Linked DNA regions of Homo sapiens: region 2 is linked to region 1. The links come from fine-mapping of genetic effects on gene expression. A gene starts in region 1. The other region holds a variant in brackets. All regions are shown on one strand. Distances are from middle to middle.

Region 1 (2,922 bases):
ACTTTGATTCCTATTTAAACCAGGGCTTTAGAGGATATTTAAAAGAAATAATGGGAATTCCCAACATGGAAACATTACTTTTTACTGAAAGCACAGTTCACAGACAGGGGGATAAAAGGAAGTTAGATCTGATTCCTGAGTGTCCTACCTATTTACATTTTGGAATCCAGTAATGTAAGTACATTTATGCTTGTGTTTAAAATATGAGCATAGAAACAACACCTAGAAAACACATGTATTTAAATCTAAGTTGAAGATAAGATGGAATTTATTGGAGGGCAACAGCAGTGACCAAAAAAAAAAAAGCAAGAGACCAATTCAACACATTAGACCTGGTCAAATAACTACCTCACGCGCAGCTACAATTACCTGAACGCCAACAACAAAATGCTGTGACGATTCAGTCTTCATCATAATTACTCATCTTCTATAGACGATACAGTCTTAAAGCATAGGAAAGAATGTATGTACAAAGAAGCACGGAAAATGACACGGTGTAGAAGATGATGACTACTCCAGTGAATGCCATAGGTGGAGCCAATTTTCTAACTGGAGTAAAATGAACTAAATTCAGAATCAAATTGAAATGTAGAGGAATATTTATTTTTCTCACCTTAATGCTTTCCTTTAAGCAGGTTTAGTTTTCATTCATTTCACTGATCTAAGGTTAATAAATTCATTATTTCAGCACCCTATGAAGAAGAAACACATCTTTTTTTTTAATTATTCTTCCTCAATAAAAGCATATCTGGAATCCTATTTTCTGAGTGAGCTGGCACACGGGGTGGGGGAGGGGAAAACTGGGAGTGTGTTGGGGAAAGCGAGGGCAGGAGGGATGACAAATCTGACCCTACCCGACAGTGCTGCCTGTCCTGTAGCATCCCAACCCTTACAGTGGTCACCCATGTGTAGTTAATCAGATTAAAAGCCTCTGAGAAACCCCTTTGAATCTCTGTCAAACAAAGACATGGAATAAACAAGAAAAAGCAGGAAGGTTATAATGCTGCACGTGGGTTAGTAATAGAAGCAAATGCAAACGCCCAGGTACCTCAGAGACTTACCCGTACCTGTCAGGGGTCTGAAAGATTTCCTGTGGCCCTGGCAGTCTGGATTTAAGGCAGGCTTAGGGGAATTAGTAAACAAAACACAGCTGAGGGTCTTTTGCCATAAACTGAACAACCAAGGAAATGAAAGTAAGGCCACGGCAAAGTTGTCTCAGCGGTGTCACTGGCTGCCATGGGGCAGCCCTGCGGTGGAAGGGCCTGACCGGCCCGGGCCAGGGTGACATCTCGGGATGTGATCTGAGCCGTCCTTGTGTGCAGATCCATGTGTTTGGAGAACAGGGTCTGTCTGTTATGTGAACACAGAGGGCATTGAGCCCAAAGCCTCATATACATTAAAAATATAATGAGAGAGATTTTTATCTTCCATGAATATTTAATTCTTCTGAAAGCCAACCATCTGCATATCACAATGCCCCGATGCATGTGTGTGATTTTCTCTGTTGTCTTTCAAAATAAAGCAGACCATTTCACTCTTCCTGTGATGCCTTGAAAGTTGCTTAAATGTGCATTGATCACTTTGATCTAATGAGTGTGTGTATTTTAAAACAAAGTCAGCACTGTTGCTCTAATCTATTTGTGTGAAGGAAACAGAACAATGGGGGGAAACCAGGTCGGGTTTCATCGTTTTCCTGGTGGCCTGTATCACAATTCACTGCCGTTTTGAATGCTGTTTAATTTTTGCTGATGTCTTTTTATCTTAGGCTTCATGTGAATTTAAAAAGAGTTTCATTGATATGCAACCTACTGTGTATTATGATATCCTGCCTGCCCTGTTGCACTGTGGAAGCCTGCAGCTGCCTGAAGCCTAATTATGCATGCATGCATGCCAAGCCCAGATGCTCGGCCAAGAGTGCCTCAACCGACTACAGTTTCTCACTTGTTTTTGTTTGAATTATAATTGGGCAGATCTATATTTCTCAACCCATCTTGTAGCTTCAGCATGCTCCTCTTTGCCTCTGTTGCTACCTCTGCTTGAGTCAGCTTCTTCATGAAGGAGTCCCTTGCCAATCTGAAGTGCCTCTGAGATCTGAGAAGGGTCATTCATGGGTTTGACAAATCCTTTTACCTACACCGCATTTTAAAAGGTACAAAAATGACCCTAGCCCCAATCAGATTTCCTCCAGATGGTTGGTAGCTTAAAAAAAAAAAAAAAAGAATAGTTAACTAGAAGCTGGCATCTGGGTAGAAACAAAGAAGGCTTAGAGCCAGGCATCTACAATGGAGAGGAATATCAGAACTAAAGCTTTACACCTGCTGAAGGAAGGTAATGGAGACTAGCAAAAACAGATTTGTTAAGCATGTGCATTCACTATTCAGAGAGCCTTTTGTGAACTGTTTTCCAGGCTACCTACGGGACCTCAGTCTTCAAGAATAACAAAGCCTCATCTGAGAGTGTGAAACTGGGTATGGCATCGCACTAAATGTGGTGTTACTCTGAGTCACCCTTCATCTGGAGATGTACACATAGAGTAACCCTCTCATATAGGATGGCAGCTGCTAGTTATAGTACTTATTTCTTTTTTTTACAACTTTAAAAAATTTCTTGAGATGTGATTTCACTATGCTGCCCAGGCTGGCCTCAAACTCCTGGCCTCGGGAGCTCCCAAGTAACTGGAACTACAGGCACACACCACCATGCCAGGCCATACGGTATTTATTTCTGAGGTACTATCAGAGACACTGTATTGTTTTTTAAATGGAGCATCAAATTAAGCACACAGATTAATTTCATTGAAAATCGTGGGATATTTTTTGATCCTGAAGCTTAAAAAAAAGTGGTGAAATTATATTGAAGCTTCAAGAGTAAGCAGGAATTTATAATAAGATAATTCTCCATGACAATCTTAAGACATAAAAT
Region 2 (2,922 bases), 130 kb before region 1:
CACAGCCCGGGATTCCTCCTAAGCCGTGTCCCATCTGTGCAGGACCCCACTGAAAATCAGACTGTTCAACTTACCTGGCAGCCACTCCCAGAGCCCCTGGAACTCTGGCCCACGGCTCTCTGACTGACTCCTTCCCAGATCTTCTCGGCTTAGCAGCTGAAGACTGATGCTGCCCGATCACCTCGGAAGCCTACAAGACCATCACAGATGCTCTAGGTAACTCTCACAGTGGAAAGTAAGTCCACCCCCTTCTTAATCAATACAGAGGCTACCCACTCCACATTACCTTCTTTTCAAGGGCCTGTTTCCCTTGCCTCCATAATTGTTGTAGGTATTGATGTCCAGGCTTCTAAACCTCTTAAAACTCCCCAACTCTGGTGCCAACTTAGAAAACATTCTTTTATGCACTCTTTTTTAGTTATCCCCACCTGCCCAGTTCCCTTATTAGGCCAAGACATTTTAACTAAATTATCTGCTTCCCTGACTGTTCCTGGACTATAGCCACACCTCATTGCTGCCCTTTTCCCCAGTTCAAAGCCTCCTTCACATCCTCCTCTCGTATCCCCCCAACTTAACCCACAAGTATAAGATACCTCTACTCCCTCCTTGGCGACCGATCATGCACCCCTTACAATCTCATTAAAACCTAATCACCCTCACCCCTCAATGCCAATATCCCATCCCACAGCACGCTTTAAAAAGATGAAAGCCTATTATCACTCACCTGCTACAGCATGGCCTTTTAAAGCCTATAAACTCCCCTTACAATTCCCCCACTTCACCTGTCCTAAAACCAGACAAAGCTTACAGGTTAGTTCAAGATCTGTGCCTTATCAACCAAATTGTTTTGCCTATCCACCCCATGGTGCCAAACCCATATACTCTCCTATCCTCAATATCTCCCTCCACAATCCATTATTCTGTTCTGGATCTCAAACATGCTTTCGTTACTATTCTTTTTCACCCTTCATCCCAGCCTCTCTTCGTTTTCACTTGGACTGACCCTGACAGCCATCAGGCTCAGCAAATTACCTAGGCTGTACTGCCACAAAGCTTCACAGACAGCCCCCATTACTTCCATCAAGCCCAAATTTCTTCCTCATCTGTTACCTATCTCGACATAATTCTCATAAAATCACATGTGCTCTCCCTGCTGATCGTGTCCGGCTAATCTCCCAAACCCCAATCCCTTCTACAAAACAACAACTCCTTTCCTTCCTAGGCATGGTTAGTGCGGTCAGAATTCTTACACAAGAGCTGGGACTGCACCCTGTAGCCTATCTGTCCAAACAA[C/T]TTGACCTTATTGTTTTAGCCTAGCCCTCATGTCTGCGTGCAGTGGCCGCCACCGCCCTAATACTTTTAGAGGCCCTCAAAATCACAAACTATGCTCAACTCACTCTCTACAGCTCTCATAATTTCCAAAATCTATTTTCTTCCTCACACCTGATGCATATACTTTCTGCTCCCCGGCTCCTTCAGCTGTACTCACTCTTTGTTAAGTCTCCCACAATTAAGATTGTTCCTGTCCCGGACTTCAATCCGGCCTCCCACATTATTCCGGATACCACATCTGACCCCCATGACTGTATCTCTCTGATCCACCTGACGTTCACCCCATTTCCCCATATTTCCTTCTTTCCTGTTCCTCACCCTGATCACACTTAGTTTATTGATGGCAGTTCCACAAGGCCTAATCGCCACACACCAGCAAAGGCAGGATATGCTATAGTACAAGCCACTAGCCTGCCTCTCAAAACCTCTCATTGTGGTAATCTGTCCTCAAAGAAATAACTTCTCAGTGTTCCATCTGCTATTCTACTACTTCTCAGGGATTCTTCAGGCCCCCTCCCTTCCCTACACATCAAACTCGAAGATTTGCCCCCACCCAGGACTGGCAAATTAGCTTTACTCAACATGCCCCGAGTCAGATAACTAAAATACCTCTTAGTCTAGGTAGACACTTTCAGTGGATAGGTAGAGGCCTTTCCTACAGGGTCTGAGAAGGCCACTGCAGGCATTTCTTCCCTTCTGTCAGACATAATTCCTCACTTTAGCCTTCCCACCTTTGTACAGTCTGATAACAGACCAGCCTTTATTAGTCAAATCAGCCAAGCAGTTTTTCAGGCTCTTAGTGTTCAGTGAAACCTTTATATCCCTTATGGTCCTCAGTCTTCAGGAAAAGTAGAATGGACTAAAGGTCTTTTAAAAACACACCTCACCAAGCTCAGCCACCAACTTAAAAAGGACTGGACAATACTTTTACCACTTTCCCTTCTCAGAACTCAGGCCTGTCCTCAGAATGCTACAGGGTACAGCCCATTTAAGGTCCTGCATAGATGCTCCTTTTTATTAGGCCCCAGTCTCATCCCAGACACCAGACCAACTTAGACTGTGCCTCAAAAAACTTGTCATCCCTACTATTTTCTGTCTAGTCATACTCCTATTCACTGTTCTCAACTACTCATACATGCCCTGCTTTTGTTTACACTGTTTCTCCAAGCCATCACAGCTGATATCTCCTGGTGCTATCCCCAAACTGCCACTCTTAACTCTTAAAGTAAATAAATAATCTTTGCCGGCAAGGCTATGCTGACCCTCTTTAAGCACTCTCTAATTAGATGTCCTAAGTCCTCCCAATTCTTAGTCCTTTAATACCTGTATTTCTCCTTCTCTTATTCCGTTTAGTTTTTCAATCCATACAAAACCGTATCCAGGCCATAACCAGTAACTCTACATGACAAATGTTTCTTCTAACAACCCCACAATATCACCCCTTACCACAAAATCTTCCTTCAGCTTAATCTCTCCCACTCTAGGTTCCCACGCCGCCCCAATCCCGCTCGAAGCAGCCCTGAGAAACATCTCCCATTATCTCTCCATACCACCCCCCAAAATTTTCACCGTCCCAACATTTTACCACTA

Evidence for each region.
Region 2: its variant is fine-mapped to the expression of LINC01170 in nasal epithelium (TOPMed, PIP above 0.99).

Annotation. Positions count from the first base shown.
Region 1 is chr5:124,437,328-124,440,249 of GRCh38, forward strand. LINC01170 (long intergenic non-protein coding RNA 1170) reads right to left here and starts at 1,193. Exons shown (of 6, transcript NR_125774.1): 1 at 1,068-1,193; 2 at 370-549.
Region 2 is chr5:124,306,102-124,309,023 of GRCh38, forward strand. The region is part of intron 4 of LINC01170 (long intergenic non-protein coding RNA 1170); the gene reads right to left. It overlaps LOC107986448 (a long non-coding RNA gene), which reads right to left. Exons shown (of 4, transcript XR_001742871.2): 4 at 150-190. Among named protein-coding and RNA genes, the nearest start is that of LINC01170, 130 kb to the right of the region's middle. RefSeq lists an enhancer at 2,356-2,922. The variant C/T (reference allele first, on the strand shown) is at 1,294.